2 separate regions of the Homo sapiens genome follow, and region 2 is linked to region 1. The links come from fine-mapping of genetic effects on gene expression. Tissue or cell type: subcutaneous fat. Region 1 holds a variant in brackets; the other region holds the start of a gene. All regions are shown on one strand. Distances are from middle to middle.

Evidence for each region. PIP is the estimated chance that this variant, and not a neighbour inherited with it, causes the effect.
Region 2: it holds the start of RAVER2, and the variant in region 1 is fine-mapped to the expression of RAVER2 in subcutaneous fat (TwinsUK, PIP 0.95).

The regions. Positions count from the first base shown.
Region 1 is chr1:64,633,072-64,641,220 of GRCh38, forward strand. It overlaps CACHD1 (cache domain containing 1), which reads left to right. Exons shown (of 27, transcript NM_020925.4): 7 at 973-1,189. Among named protein-coding and RNA genes, the nearest start is that of MIR4794, 57 kb to the left of the region's middle. The variant C/A (reference allele first, on the strand shown) is at 4,031.
Region 2 is chr1:64,741,861-64,750,009 of GRCh38, forward strand. It overlaps RAVER2 (ribonucleoprotein, PTB binding 2), which reads left to right and starts at 3,215. Exons shown (of 12, transcript NM_001366165.2): 1 at 3,215-3,561. The coding sequence starts at 3,313. RefSeq lists silencers at 2,869-2,968, 2,989-3,188.

The DNA of each region.
Region 1 (8,149 bases):
CTCCTTTATGATTGCATGGCTGACTGGGAGCTGCGGCTCGCTGCCATTGTCCAGCACCATGAGAAAGTATCAGGAGCCTGGGAAAAGATCCAAAATTGAAAGTACAGCTTCACTGCCTGCCTATCGCTTTCTCACCATCATAAAGTCAAACCATTGTATGTCAGGGACCATCTGTATATTTTTTTAAATCCATCTTTAAAAGGACTTTGGGAAAAGAAAAGACTTTGGGAAAAGAGTATTATTCTAATATTTGAGGAAGCAGCCACAAATCCAAAAATCCCTTTCGTAACTACCACCAAGCTTAGTCTTATACTTCTTTATGGCTCATGGTAAGGTTTCTAATTAGCCATGACTTTCACACTGGAGGTTACGCTGAGGAGGAGAGGGGTGGGAGATTTGGATGCTGATGGATGGCTGAACTTTATTGCAAGATTGTTGGGAAGTCAGGAAGAAGGGAAAGCCGCTAGTGGCTGACTAATCTCTGGGACACCTCAGAGAGAGGTGTGGGTACAGCTAATGATAATCTATTGCCTGTGGACATTTTCTGCTTCATCATTTTGACTTTGCCAACTCCAGAGGTTTTGCTCACTAACCTAGTGGCTTAAAACACACACACCTCACTCTCTTACCCTCACCCCTCACCTCCAGGTTGAAAAACAGGATAGTTCATTCTTGCTATGACTTTTCTCTGCATAAAATAGTTTGTGTGTGTGTTTAATGTTATGTATGAACATAATACTACCACTTCATGTTGGAACAAAAACCAAACTCTAGGGGTTTCCCCACTTTACCAATCCTTATGGATCCTTTTCAAATTTGATAGATGGATGGCTCCAGGGATTTATTTTGAAACTCTCAGAATCTGTTCTGTAGGCCTTCTTACTCCTTGGCCTCTTCTGTTACATAAATAAATAAATCTTTAGACGGTAGGATAACAAGTTTGGTGGTTTTTTTTTTTTTTCTTTCCTGCAGATTTCTGTGTTAACTGTGGCAGATACCGTCCGGACTTGCTCACTAGACCAGTGCTATAAGACCTTCTTGTCTCCAGCCACCAGTGAGACAAAAAGGAAAATGTCCACCTTTGTTAGCAGCGTGAAGTCTTCAGACAGTCCTACCCAGCACGCAGTGGGATTCCAAAAGGCATTTCAGCTGATTCGAAGTACAAACAATAACACAAAGTTCCAAGCAAGTGAGTGCGTTCTCTCAGAGGACTTAGAGGCATAGTAGATAAAGATGGCAATAGGAATATATTGTAAATTGATCACACAATGATGTTTAGAGAGATTTTATTTATTTATTTATGTATGTATTTATTTATTTATTTATTTACCTTGAGACAGAGTCTTGCTCTGTCCAAGCTGGAATGCAGTGGTGTGATCATGGCTCACTCCAGCCTTGACTTCCTGGGCTCCAGCAATCTTTCTACTTCAGCCTCCCAAGTAGTTGGGACCACAGGCTTATGCCACCACGCCCAGCTAATTTTTATATTTTTGGTAAAGAAAGGGTTTCACTGGCTGAGACCTGTCTGATCTCAAACTCTTGAACTCAAGCAATCCACCTGCCTTTGCCTCCCGAAGTACTGGAATTACAAGCATGAGTCACCGCGACCAGCGTAGAGGGATTAAAAAAAAATTGATTGGGGGCGAGGTGCGGTGGCTCACGCCTATAATCCCAGCACTTTGGGAGGTCAAGGCAGGCGGATCACAAGGTCGGGAGTTCGAGACCAGCCTGGCCAATATGGTGAAACCCCATCTCTACTAAAAATACAAAAAAAATTAGGCAGGCATGGTGGTGGTTGCCTGTAGTCCCAGCTCCTCGGGAGGCTGAGGCAGGAGAATCACTTGAACCCAGGAGGCAGAGGTTGCAGTAAGCCAAGATCATGCCACTGCACTCCAGCCTGGGTGACAGAGCAAGACTCTGTCTCAAAAAAAAAAAAAAAAAAAAAAGATTTGGGATAAAATTGTCATATGTTGTCTTCGTCATCATCTAATTATAGAGTGTTAACTGCGTTTTTCTCATCTTTTCCAATCAAAGATGGTCAGTCTGTACAATTTCTTGACTCTTAGAGCCTCCCCTTCCTGCCCCTTTATTTAGATCATGTCTGCACTTATGTCCCAAGGGAATCTCCACATCCTTTCTAATGCTGATTGTCAGCTTTGCTTCCTCTTTGACTTGGAGTGGAAGTCTGCTTGTGCACATGTGGACGTGAAGTGGGCAGCAGGAATTCTTGCCTTGATCCTTCCTTCTTCTAACCAGCTGTCATTTAGATGAGCATGGCCCTTCAGATGTACAAAGGCACTCTAATTTAATTTTTTTTTTTTTTTTTTTTGGAGACAGAGTCTCACTTTGTCACCCAGCCTGGAGTGTGATCGCGCAATCCCGGCTCACTGCAACCTCCACCTCCCGGGTTCAAGCGATTCTCCTGCCTCAGCCTCCTGAGTAGCTGGGATTACAGGCATGTGCCACCATGCCTGGCTAATTTTTGTATTTTAAGTAGAGATGGGGTTTCACCATGTTGGTCAGGCTGATCTTGAACTCCTGACCTTGTAATCCCCCACCTCGGCCTCCCAAAGTGCTGGAATTAGAGGTGTGAGCCACCACGCCTGGCCTCTAATTTAATTTTTATGTATTAAAGAAAATCTGGAATTAGGATGCATCCTAAAGTAAGGGAAAAGATATTTGAAATGGGGCTCATGCTTTGAAACTACTTGAAGGAATCTATTTCATTTTCCCTTTTATTTTCAAAAATCTGTTTATAGGCTGGGCGCGGTGGCTCATGCCTGTAATCCCAGCCCTTTGGGAGGCTGAGGTGGGTGGATCACAAGGTCATGAGATCAAGACCAGCCTGACCAACATGGTGAAACCTCATCTCCACTAAAAATACAAAAATATAGCTGGACATGGTGGCACACGCCTGTAATCCCAGCTACTCAGGAGGCTGAGGCAGGAGAATTGCTTGAACCCGGGAAGTGGAGGTTGCAGTGAGCCAAGATTGCGCCACTGTACTCCAGCCTGGTGACGGAGCGAGACTCAGTCTCAAAAAAAAAAAAAAATCTGTTTATAGTTTTTTTCTTTGTTTGAAAATATTAATGTATCCTATTGAGATAAATTTAAAGAATACATTTCCAAGCCCTTCATTGTGTCTGTGTTTAAACTAAGCACTGATTAATGCAAAGCATAGTGCCTCGCACATAATGGATCCTCAAAAGAAGGAAGCTACTGTAATTATAACTAATGATGGTACATGGTGTGTTAGTTTTATGTCTCAGCATAACAAATTACCACAAACTTAGCAGTTTAGCACAATATACATTTGTTATCTCACAGTTTTTGTGGGTCAGGAGTCCAAGTACAGCTTAGCTGAGTCCTCTGTTTAGGGTCTCACAGGCTACTGTCAGAGTGTCAGTGGGACTACCGTTCATTCAGAGTCCTAAGGTTCATGCTAAGGTTTGTTCATGCTAAGGTTCATTCATGCTAAGGTTCAACAAACATGAGCTCACACGTTTGTTGGCAGAGTTCATTTCCTTGCAACTGTAAAACTCATTTCATTTACTTCTTCAAGGCCAATAGAAGAGCATCTCTTCAAATCCCTGGCTTCAGAGAAGGTTTGGGCCCTCTTTTAACAAGCTCATCTGATTAGATCAGCCCCACTTTCCCTTTTGATTTATTTAATCAGATTACTCTCGCTTGTGATTAACTCAATGTAAGTTTATCAGGGACCTCGGCAAACATCCATCCATCTTTGCAAGCACCATCACAGGAGTAATGGCTCATTACTTGCCATATTCTTCTTCTTAGAAGCAAGTTACAGGTTATGTCCCGTATACAGGACATCCTGTATATTCAGCAGTATACAGGATGTTGCTCATTTAGATCATCTTAGAATTTGGCCTACCAGCTTTGGCAAGCATCAGCTATCCACAAGCCAATATTATGGGGTGGCTGAGCGTAAAGTTGCCCTTGGTTCAGTAAGGTCAGTTAACAAGGCTGAATTCAAGTACTCAAGGCAGATTGGCCTGTTTGTCAATGC[C/A]ACCCACCTGTCAGCATTCCTCACTAGAAGTGTTCTTTCTACCAAATTCTTCTGTCATCAGACCATCTTTAAAGTCTAGTTTTGATTATTATACTTTTCAAATAATGGAGAGAAATGTTAGACTAGCAGTTGCAAACTCAGATGTCCACAGTGGCCAGGCAGCGCATTTGAGTCAAGTGAGCTGGGGGAAGGTAATGAGGATGAGTTGGAGAACATGGTCACATGGACACATGCACCATCCAGAGGGTAGCTGCTCCTCTGTTCAGTCCATTGAGCAGGAATGTCTGCCCAGTGCTGCCAGATCTTCTGTTTCAAGAGATGCCAGAAATCTGGATTTTCATGTGAAATCCCTTGATTTTCAAATGTTGACATTTGTTCCAGCTTTAAAACTGTGAATAGAGACCTCATTAAATCTCTTCTCACAGACATTCCTGCACTGCACATGAGCAGGAGGCTGGTTTGATGAGAGGCATTTCTCCTCTGGATTTTTCTGTGTTGTTTTTCTTAATGTTGGCAAACAAAAACATGGCAAGAAGATTGACCATTAAAGACTTGGACAAATTTTGAAGGCACAGTTTTCTAAATACTCAGAGGAGCCCTTTTTAGCCCAAGTAAGATGTTTCTAAGGCTTAGCTCACTGGCCTCTAGTTTATAGCTTTTACTGACAGTTTAGAGAAAAAATAACCTAGATTAGTTTGTATAAAGAAAAGACTTCAGGAATGAGCGTTGTCCAGTTTATTAAGGAGCAGTCCCAGGGTACTCTCAGGCAATATTGCCCAGGAGTTATGCAGGTTATAGATTTCAACTAGTGTTCTACTCTGAAATTTTTCTAACCTTGTGGATTTGTCTATATTGTTTTATTTTCTCCAGACCTGGATTCCTCACCTGTAAATGGAGGGGTGATAATATCCAGGATTCCATCATAAATATCCAATGCATATTTCCTGTGATTATTATGATATTCAGTTTCCTATAAGACTTCTAGCTCCAGCTAAACTAGATCAGATGCCCTAGATGTCCTAAGTTGACCTCAGGCCCAAAGATGGCCAAGGCCTAGGCAACAGTGTAGCAAGGGGTCTGTATACACTTCCTAGAAGTTTATTCTAGTGTAAACTCTATACATCACTATTTCTCTTCACTCTACAGACAATTATTTAATGTCTACTGTATATCTGGTGCTGTTTTAGGTGCCACATGTGAGGTTATTCAAATAATAAGACCTACTCTTGACGATTGTTGTAAGGGTTAGTCTGTACATGAAAGTAAAGTGTATGCCCACATTGGTAGCCATATAAAAATAAGCTACATGTCATAAATCATTGTTGGTTGACACTAATTTGCCTTATATCAACCAGAAGGTCTAAAACTTTTGTCCAATTCTGACCCTTTTTTCAGTCTTATGGTAGATCTTTAACTGACAGCATTAACATCCTGGAGTTGTTTCTTCTGAATTTGTTTTGGAGCTGATTAGTTGAGGATCATAATGAACCTCAATTAAAGATGGTTAAGAGTGGAGATCTAATGGTATGGGCAAAGCCTAAATATGAGTCGCTCTTCCCCTTTTGATGTTGACCCCAAGACATGCCTGGTGGCTTATAGAGAGACTCAGCAAATGGAGAGCTATTACATTTTCTTCCAGTTACATGCTGCATCTCTGCTCTACCCCAAGTCCCTGTAATTGCTTGCCCCTAAAATTGCTCTAAGTGGGTGACTAAAAAGGGAATATCCCAATGCATTAAAAAAACAAATCAAACCAAATTTGACAGATCTGATAAGAATGGAAAAATAACTCAATTTTTCTTGAGGATAAGGTGGGAATGGAGTCAGGGGTTGGACAGAGCCAGCGAGGATTCTTACAGAGTGTATGTCTTATTGTTGGAATGGAAAGAAAATGTGCTTGGCTACCAAAGCAGCTCAAGGGCTGCTAGCTTTCTGGCCTTCCAGACATGGACCTTTGCCCTAGAAACAGCTCTAAATGACAGTGTATTTTATGCAGAATCATAAGGCTAAGTGAGACAACTTAGAGACTAGGGTTCTCTTTTAGGTCACCCTAGATGTGTCCAGGAATTTATCACACATATACTTTTGCCATGAGGAGATGGTTTGTGTCATACCATAGATCCTCCTCATGCTGTATCTATGTATATATGTTCCCTCCAACTAGGGACTCAAGCAATTTTTGTTTTTGTATTTTTCAGTCTGAAGTTTAAATGAACTGTTTAGGGTCCTTATAAAATAATTTACTGAACTGTATATACAACTGAAAAAATATTGACATCTGGTTTGTTGACATCTAATTTAAGACAAGAATATTCCTAAAGTGTGGATTTTCTTTTTGCATCAGCATTCACTTCCTAATCTCTGATAACTAAATAGTGAAATTTAAATGTGCAGTTAATGTTCACTAGAGAATGTTCAGGTATCAAAATTGGTATTAAGTATTAGGAGTAAATAAGAGGAATTTTGAATGCATTTATTTCTTAGAGTCAAATTTTGTTAAACTCAGTTCAGTTATCTATGACATTCATATATTATAAGTTAACTGTTAAATTCTGCCTAATAAAGAATACTTAAATCTAAAATGGAAATGTATAATTTGAAGGAAATTCAAGTTTTGTGTCTTCACCATTAGGATAATTTTTTAAAGGGTAGCTATATTCATTAACTATTGCTGTGTAACAAATTATTCCAACACTCTGTGGCTTAATACATCTTTATTGTCTCATAGTTTCTGTACTTCAGGAATCTGGACACAGCATAGCTGGGTGCCTCTGGCCCAACGAGTTTCTTGAGACGGCAGTCAGCCTATTGCCCAGAGCTGCTGTCTTCTCAAAGTTCTACTGGGGAAATAGCTGCTTCCAAGCTCACTCACACTTTTGCTGGCAGGATCTTCAGTTCCAGGGGCCTCTGTTCCTTGCCTCTCCATAGGACTGCTTACAGCCTGCCAGCTGGCTTTCTTCAGAGTGAGAAAGCCCCCCTTGCAGAAGCCACAGTCTTTTTGTAACCTAGTCTTTGTCTTGATGTCCCATCACCTCTGCCGCATTCTAGTCATTATAAGTGACTCACTAAATCCAGCCACACTCAAGGGAGGCAGCTACCCCAGGAGGTGAATGAATGTCAAGACATGGAATCACTAAGGGACCAAGTTTGAGGTTGCCTGCCGCAGTCACTTTAGAGCAACCTCAACTAAAACACAATAACAGAAACCTGAAGAAGTAAGTGTATAACATATTATATAAATATTTCTCAGTAAAAAGATAAATATGTAGGATGTCCTAAAAATTTTTATTGAGGCCAGGCGTGGTGGCTCACGCCTGTAATCCCAGCATTTTGGGAGGCCAAGGCGGGCAGATCATTTGAGGTCAGGAGTTCAAGACCAGCCTGGCCAACATGGTGAAACCCCATCTCTACTAAAAATACAAAAAATTAGCCAGGCATAATGGCACGTGCCTGTAGTCCCACTACAGTAATCTGAGGCATGAGAATCGCTTGAACCCTGGAGGAGGAGATTGCAGTAAGCTGAGATCATACTACTGCACTCCAGCCTGGGTAACAGAGCAAGACTCAGTCTTAAAATATATATATATACAGACACACACACACACACACACACACACACACACACACACACTCTCAACATTATATATATATATATATATATATATGTTAAATCAAAGAATTACAGATTAGGAAGAAGATGTAAAAGTCCAGCTCTCTGACTTCCCTCTTTTTATTGTGGTCATTTAGCCTCTGCTTATTTATCTCTAATTGTAGGAAATTAATCACCTTTGTTTTTTTTTAGTCAACCCACTTGACAGAAGTTCTACGGGACCAAAATTAACTCTCAGTTATTCTACCTCGCAGCCCTATTTGGAAAATAATTTCACTTCTAACTCAGGGGTGCTCCTTCAATCCAATGGCATGGTTTTTGTTTTCATTTTGTGTGTGTGTTGTAGTTTCTTTTTTTTCTCTTTTACCTTCTTTTTTTATCACCTTTTTGCTGATAGTCTTTACGTAAAATAACCAATTATTCTTCACAGCAACACTACTAAGTCAGTCCTGTCATTACTCCCATTTTATAGACAAAGAAAATTAGTTGTAGAGAGGTTGAGAAATTTG
Region 2 (8,149 bases), 110 kb after region 1:
CCTATACGACGTAGCAATATTGCACAAGGAGTGGGATCAATTCAAAGTAGCCACTTAATAAAATTGGCTTAATAATTTGATAACATTGTAATCATGTCCCCATTGGGGCCAAAACTGGAATTACATTATCATAACTCCCAAAACATAATCAACACCTGATTCATTCACCAGACTTAACCTCAAATAACATTTAATTATTTCCAAAAATTAAACCCATCTCTAAGAGGTGAGTATTTGCTACCACATAAACTATGCAGAATAATTTGCTGTAGATTATAAAGTCAATTCCAAAAAAGCACTTTGGGGCTGGGCGTGGTGGCTCACGCCTGTAATCCCAGCACTTTGGGAGGCCGAGGCGAGCGGATCATGAGGTCAGGAAATCAAGACCATCCTGGCTAACATGGTGAAACCCCGTCTCTACTAAAAATACAAAAAATTAGCTGGGCTTGGTGGCACACGCCTGTAGTCCCAGCTACTCTGGAGGGTAAGGCAGGAGAATCGCTTGAACCTGGGAGGCGGAGGTTGCAGTGAGCCAAGATCACGCCACTGCACTCCAGCCTGGGCAACAGAGCAAGACTCCGTCACAAAAGAAAAAAAAAAAGCACTTTGGAGAATGTTTTGAGCAAAAGCAATCACTGAAGTTATATTCAGACCACTATCCGTTTGCATATTTATTATATTTAATTATAATCATTGCATAATTTTCTCTCAGTGAGACTTAGCCCCTATTGTACAGGAGCATTATTTTACTATTTCTGTCTTCTTATTGCCTTTATATATTATCTAGCACATAAGGGACATTTAATAAATGTTTGCCAAGGAGGTGGTACTCATTTGGATAAATACATGTTCTGAAACATAATGAATGACTCAAGGTTACAGCCTATGCTAAGGCTATTCATGCTTCTTCACTTCAAAGAATGTACTTTTCAAAGTCTCTCAGCTCTACAAAATAGGGCCTTATTGGAGTTTAAAATGTATACCTTTTAAAATCAAAGGAATACAATTTAAAAGCAAAATGATACATTAATACTAGAATATCATGGATGCAAGCAGAGAAATAAGTGCTCTTATACAATGCTTGTGATAGGGAAAACTGAGGTAAGTTTGTAAATACATACAAAAAATCCTTAAATATGCTTACTCTAGATGCAGAAATTTTGCTTCTAGTTCTTCACTCTGTGGAAAAGTAATGATCTTCAAATATGTATAGAGGGTTAAACTCAGTGCTGTTTACAATAGATAAAAATAATAGGAAATACTAATGCTAGGAAATAAGTGAATTTTCTAATTCAACAGAATAATATGCAGCCATAAAAACCATGGTATTCAAATACATTGGCATAGAAAGGGATTCAGCAGACATACTGTAAAAAGCAGAAAACAGAGCTGTAAACTACAGAATATCATTCAAAAACATTTTTATGCAGTAATAGTCACGTAATAAAATTAATATTTTAAAAGTGAATAGTTCAGTGACTATTTAGTACATTCATATTATTGGGCTACTGCCCCCTCTGTCTAGTTCCAAAACTAGATTTTCATCATTCCATAAGGATGTTTGCACCCATTACCTTCTCCTCCAGCCCTTGGTAAACACCAATCTGTGTTCCGCTCTATGAATCTACCTATTCTGATATTTTATACGCATGGAATCATACAATATATGACCTTTTGTCTCTGGCTTCTTTCATTTAATGCTTTGGAGGTTCGTCCACCTTGTAGGGGTCCTTAATTCCTTTTTATGGCTAAAAATATTTCTTAGCATATATATATCCCACGCTTTGCCTATCTGTTCATCAATAAATGGACATTTGGGTTGTTTCTATCCTTTGGTTACCAGGAATAGTGGTGGTATAGAAGGGTGTATTGCCGAATATCATTTTAATGATACAAGTATTAGCAGCCATTATTTTTGGGTGGACGGATTACGGGTGAATTATTTTATGTTATTCAGAACACTGGGCTTTGGAATCAATCAGAACAGATCCCATTTCCTCACGTGTAAAGTGAGGAAAACAAAACCTACGTAATTGAATGATCATGAAGAGTAAATAAATATGTATATGTAAAGCATTTAGAAATGCGTGGTTGGGGGGAGCACATGGTAAGGACTGAATTTGTAGTATTTTTAAAAAATCTTTAAAACATTTTGTTTTTCTTTTAATTAGTGTTAAAGTCTTTTTTTTTTTTTTTTTTTTTTTTTTGCTAGTGTACTTGCATGCTACACAATTAAGATGCATGGTCCCCTTCGCTGATGGTCACCTGGGCTAGTGCCAAAGGCTGCTGGATTGTTTGATCTGATGACATCCGTTTGACTAAGTATAGTTCTACACTGTAACTCTCCCTCCAAGTTTCAATTAAAATAATGTTCCAAGCAGCGTATTCTCCAGCCCCTCTGCCACAGCTCCTTTTCCATTCTAGTCTTTGTTTCAGCATCACTTTCCATGTTGCAGACCCAACTACCCAGGTTTTACATTTTAGGAACTGCATGACAGGGACAGAGGGACAGGTGAAGGGCACAGGCTTTCTCATACACAGCTAGCAAAATACATTACGATCAGGTTTTACCAAATACATAACATTTCTCCCACAATGTCCCTCTTTTTACTCCCCAGAAAATCTCATTGTAAACTCAAACTTTGCCAAATATGCTCTTCTTGAACCAACAGAAGGGTTACCATCGGGAGCCAGCCGGGCTGCAGGAGGCGCCCTCCTGCCACCCCTCCAGCCCCATCTCGGGTGTGGGAAGACCGAGTTCGCGCCCGCAGCCCCCGGGCCGCCCCAGCGCGGGAGTTTCGAGGGGAGCCGGGGGAGAGCTGCGGCGTCACATGGGGGGCCAGCCGGGGACAGGCGCCTGGGGCTGAGTCTCCCGGCGAAGCCACCGCGAAGGGGCCGCATCCCCCAGAGAACGACCCTGGGCGTTCGCGAAGGCCTCGCAGAGAGGGGGAGCCCGCCTGCGCGTCCGCGCCCTCACAGGTGTCCGGGTGGCGGCGCCCGGCCCCGCCTGCGGACCCGCGAGAGGCGGGCGCGGGCGCGCCTGTGCGCCGGGGCCGGGGGCCGGCGGGGGAGGTTCCCGCGAGGTGGTTCTCGGGCTCCTCCTCGGCGCCTCAGGTTTCCTCTCCCCGCCAGCAGGCTGCTGGCTGCGGCGCCGCCTCTCTCTACTCCCTCCTCCCACCGCCCCCCTTCCCCGCGGTTGGGCCCACTCTGCGGCCTCTGCCCGCCTCGCCCTCGCCCGGGCCTCCTCCCGCTTTCTCTCTCCGCTTCCCCTGGAGCCTCCGAGGAGTCCGCAGCCGCTGGGCGCCCGGGAAGATGGCGGCGGCGGCGGGAGACGGCGGCGGCGAGGGGGGCGCGGGCCTGGGCAGCGCGGCGGGGCTGGGGCCGGGGCCGGGGCTGCGCGGGCAGGGCCCCTCAGCCGAAGCGCACGAGGGCGCCCCGGACCCGATGCCCGCCGCGCTGCACCCTGAGGAGGTCGCCGCGCGACTGCAGCGGATGCAGCGGGAGCTGAGCAACCGCAGGAAAATCCTGGTGAAAAACCTGCCCCAGGACAGCAACTGCCAGGTACTGGGACGGTGATAGGGGCGACGCGTCCCGAGGGGCGGCGGGGCGGCGCTCCGTGTCCAGGCTGGGATCGGGGGCGCCTCAGAGCGGTCCTGGGGAGTGGGTCGGCGCCGAGTGGTGAGAGCGGCCCCTCGGTTTGACTGAGTTCTTGGGGTTTCTAGCCTGCAGACGCCCTGCCAGGGAGGGGGGCAGATTGGGAAACTGAGGCTCTGAGTGGCGAAGCGGCTTCTCCAAGGTCACGGGAATCAGGGGCTGCTGCCTCCAAGTTCGGCCCGGTCTTTCCTTCCCCTACGGCCGTAGAGGAGTAGGAGGTGAAGGAGAGTGGAGGTGAGTTGTGGAGCACACATTTTGCGGGGGGGAGCGGGGGTAGAGGGGGCCGAAGCTTCGGGAGCACCTTGGCAGGGGCGAGGGCTCCAACGTATAGTCCCCGGTGCTCGGGAGTGCCATAGGGGGCAGGGGCACGAGAGAGCTGGGAGTGAGTTTCGCTGTTGTTGCAGAAGCACTTGCCCAAGTTTCTATGAAACAACTCTGTCTTCTCAGTTTGCTAAGGCCCCAGAATAGAGTTATTGCTGCGCTCCTTGGAGCCTTGCAGCCGCCTCCTGCTACGCCAAGTACAGTACTGGAGGGTTTGTTCTCAGTGACTTGGATGAGGTTTAAAGATAGCTACTCTGTGTATTTAATCCAGATTAACTGTTGCTTTTAAGATTAGAAACTCTGCATCTATTTAACTTTTTTTTTCCCCTGATTTCAAAAGCTGCATGCTCATTGTAGGAGAGCTAGGAAAGACAGAGAAGCACAAAGGGGACACAGAAATTACCCATATTTCTGATACCTGAAGATAACCATTGTTATCCTGGGATGTTGTTCTTTTCTCTTTTCCTATGCATATATATTTTTGTTTTATCAAAAGCTTGAAATCATTTCTTTGATTCTTCAGGATTTCTTAGCTGTCTGGATGTTCACACATGTTTCACATATAACCTGAATTTATATACTGCTCCGAGTGTGGTGGGCTGTCCTGGTAGTTGCGGATTTGTAGTTCCTCCTGTAACCGGATGCATGAAATTGCAAGAGGGCTGGCTATTGACAATTGCATGGCAGTTCTTCCATGTGACTTATAAAATAATGAGACCAATGCCCCATTACTATGTAATGAGACCTTACATAGCCATTCACAATAAATATGAACATATAACCTTATAACCCGTAGGCATGGGGGGCTATTTTGTTTCAAAATGCAGTGTCTGTCAGTATTGTTTATCTCATCTGTCTTTCAACTCTTTCCATTCCGCCATGGTCCACTTCCCATCTGTCAGGTAATGTTTTGTGATACTACCTGTTAAGGACACCTGCAATGGACTGATTTCTTGGAAGCAGCCTCCCCTGCCCATACAAATAGAGGACTGTAAGGGAGCTCAGGAAGGAGGAGGCTTGGAAGAAGCAGATGGCATTTTTTAAAAAAACAAATTTAAAAAATAGCAGCTCTTTGTATAGACAGTCTAGGAGGAGAGAAATAGAGAAGTATCTCAATGTCTTTGTAGAATGTCAGCTGTTTTTGTTATCACAATTCCTTGCATTAATTCTAAATATATTTAGACCCCAAATTGAAGACGTTCTGTCTATTCTTGCTTTGCTGTTGGTATCTTTCTCATTTCCCTTCGCAATAGACATGAAAAATATATCAAAGGGTCTAATAAAAGGAGCAGTTTTAATTAGTGATAGAAGCTTTCTCAGAATTACACTGGGATTTGTATTTTTGAGATTTCATCTACTTAAACTAATATTTTCATATGTTCTGCATGAATTTTTTTGTATTTTTTGTTTTAACAATTTCCCTTAATTATAATGTCTGCTTTTTCTTAGTGACTATATTTTACTGTCAACTTACTGATGAAAGTTTCACTTTATTTTATTTTGTGTCTTTTTGCTAGTAAGGCCTACATAAAATCACCTGTGCTAAAACTACATATTTACCCTTATGAAATGGTTAATATGGCTTTTGTTCAATTATTAAGTAATCAGATATTTTTGAAATACTAAGTTCTTGTTCTTTTCCAGAAGAGACTGTGTTTATTCATTCATTTCTTTCTTTCTTTTTTTTTTTTTCTGAGACAGAGTCTCGCTCTGTCATCCAGGCTGGAGTGCAGTGGCGCGACCTCAGCTCACTGCAACCTCTGCCTCCCAGGTCCAAGTGATTCTCCCTGCCTCAGCCTCCCAAGTAGCTGGGATTACATAAGCCTGCCACCATGCCTGGCTAATTTTTGTATTTTTTAGTAGAGATGTGGTTTTGCCATGTTGACCAGGCCGGTCTTGAACTCCTGACCTCAGGTGATCCCACACGCCTCGGCCTCCCAAAGTGCTGAGATTACAGGTGTGAGCCACTGTGCCTGGCCTCATTTCTTTATTTTAGAATATCACTTTAAGGATCAAAGACATTCATAACTCTAGTTCTCAAACTGTGTATTTATGTCTCTAGAAAATACTGATCAATAACTTACTAGTAGAAACCCAATAATTTTTTCTTAACATTTGAAATATATGAGTGTTTTCTTTATTAAATGTAGTTTTCATAAATCTCAAATTTTGTTTTATTTTTGGTATAGCAGATTTATAATAGCATCCCACAACTTTATAGTTCCTATAATTAAAAGGCATACTGAAAGTATTTTTAACTGGAAGCTTTTAGAGGTATGTTTATCAAATACCTTATAGAAGTACCGGCTCTAAAAAAAAGTGAACACCTTTATATTAAGTTCTCAAAAGCTTTCTCACTGAATAATTACTGTGCATTCAGTCAAGCCCTGTCTGGTCTGCCTAAGCTTTCTGGAATCTTCCTGGCCCTCTTTGTTTTCACAGCCTCAGCTCTGGTTCAAGTCCTTTTCGTCTCTTGTTCACTGTTAACAACTTTTCGGTTTGTCACCTACCTTCATTACTGTCCTGTTTCTTACATTTTAGCTCCTTCTGCATGCTACTTCCCTTGAGGGATACTCCTGAAGCACAAATCTGATCATGTCACTCTCCTGCTCATAAAAAACCAGCCTTTGGCTGCACGTCCTCTCAAACTTTTCCTCAAATTGTCCTTAACAGTAAAGAACAGTGAATCTGAATTAGACTGTTGCAAGACTGAAATTGCTTTGAAGTTTTGTGTTCTGTCTGAGAATTTTATATTAATTTTATATTCTATTAGTAACATTGGATTTAACACAAAAATAGCATTTAACTCCCAATTTTTTTTCATAAACTTGACACTTATGGAAAATGTACTATATTTGACTTTTGATTCTCTGTATTTCTGTATTACCATGGAGTACACAGATATGAGTTTGAAAAGCATGAAATGATAGGACAGCAGTCTAAGATTCTTAGGCTTTTTGTGTGTTGGCCCCTGCCTACGTTTCCAGTCTCATTCCTTTTTAGTTTTTATTTATTGTTTTGAGACAGGGACTTGCTCTGTCACCTGGACTGGAGTGCGGTGGAACGATCACTGCTCACTGCAGCCTTGACCTTCCAGGCTGAAGCGATTCTCTCACCCTCTAAAGTAGCTGGGACTACAGGCATAAGCCACCATGCCAGGCTAATTTTTTTTTTTTTAATTTTTTGTAGAGACATCGTATCTCTATGTTGCCTAGGCTGGTCTTGACCTCCTGGACTCAAGCAATCCTCCTGCATTTGCCTCCCAAAGTGCTGGGACCACAGTGTGAGCCACTGCACCCAGCCATCAGTCTCATTTCTGATTAGTCCCGCATTGGATTCTGTTCATTTCTGATTAGTCTTGCATTGGATTTTTTGTTTGTTTGTTTGTTTTTTGAGACGGATTCTCACTCTGTCGCCCAGGCTGCAGTGCAGTGGTGTGACCTCGGCTCACTGCAACCTCCACCTCCTGGGTTCAAGCGATTCTTCTGCCTCAGCCTCCCGAGTAGCTGGGATTACAGGCATGTGCCACCACGCTCGGCTAATTTTTGTGTTTTTAGTAGAGACAGGGTTTCACCATGTTGGCCAGGCTGCTCTCGAATGCCTGACCTCAGGTGATCTGCCCGCCTCGGCCTCCCAAAGTGCTGGGATTACAGGCGTGAGCCACCGTGCCCGGCCAGTCCTGCATTGGATTCTATTCCACATTTATCAAACTACCTAGATCCCCAAGTACCTCATGCCACTGTGAATTGAATATTTATAGTTATATCTTTGTTTTGGAATGTATTTATAGTGAGTACTTTATAGTGAATAATATTTATAATTATTTTTAATGAATAATTTATAGTCAATAGTAATGTTGCAAATGCTGGTTCCTATTCATAGCCATTGTATATGTGTGTGTCTGGTCTTTTGCAACTGAATTTAGAATTTTGATTGGTTGAGGTAATGTTTTAATATTTTTTCTAATATATGTGTTATTGTATTTCTATAAATTGTATTACGGTTAACCTGGTTCTGTTTCAATATTGTTGTCATTGGGGTTTCAAAATGGAGAAAACAGGGGCATTTGCTTCTTAGATTATTTGTGTTCACTTAGGTTTTTTTTCTTACAGGTCTTATGTGTGTGCATGTGTTTTGTTTTTGTCATCTTGTTTACCCTAAAATCTTGAAGAGA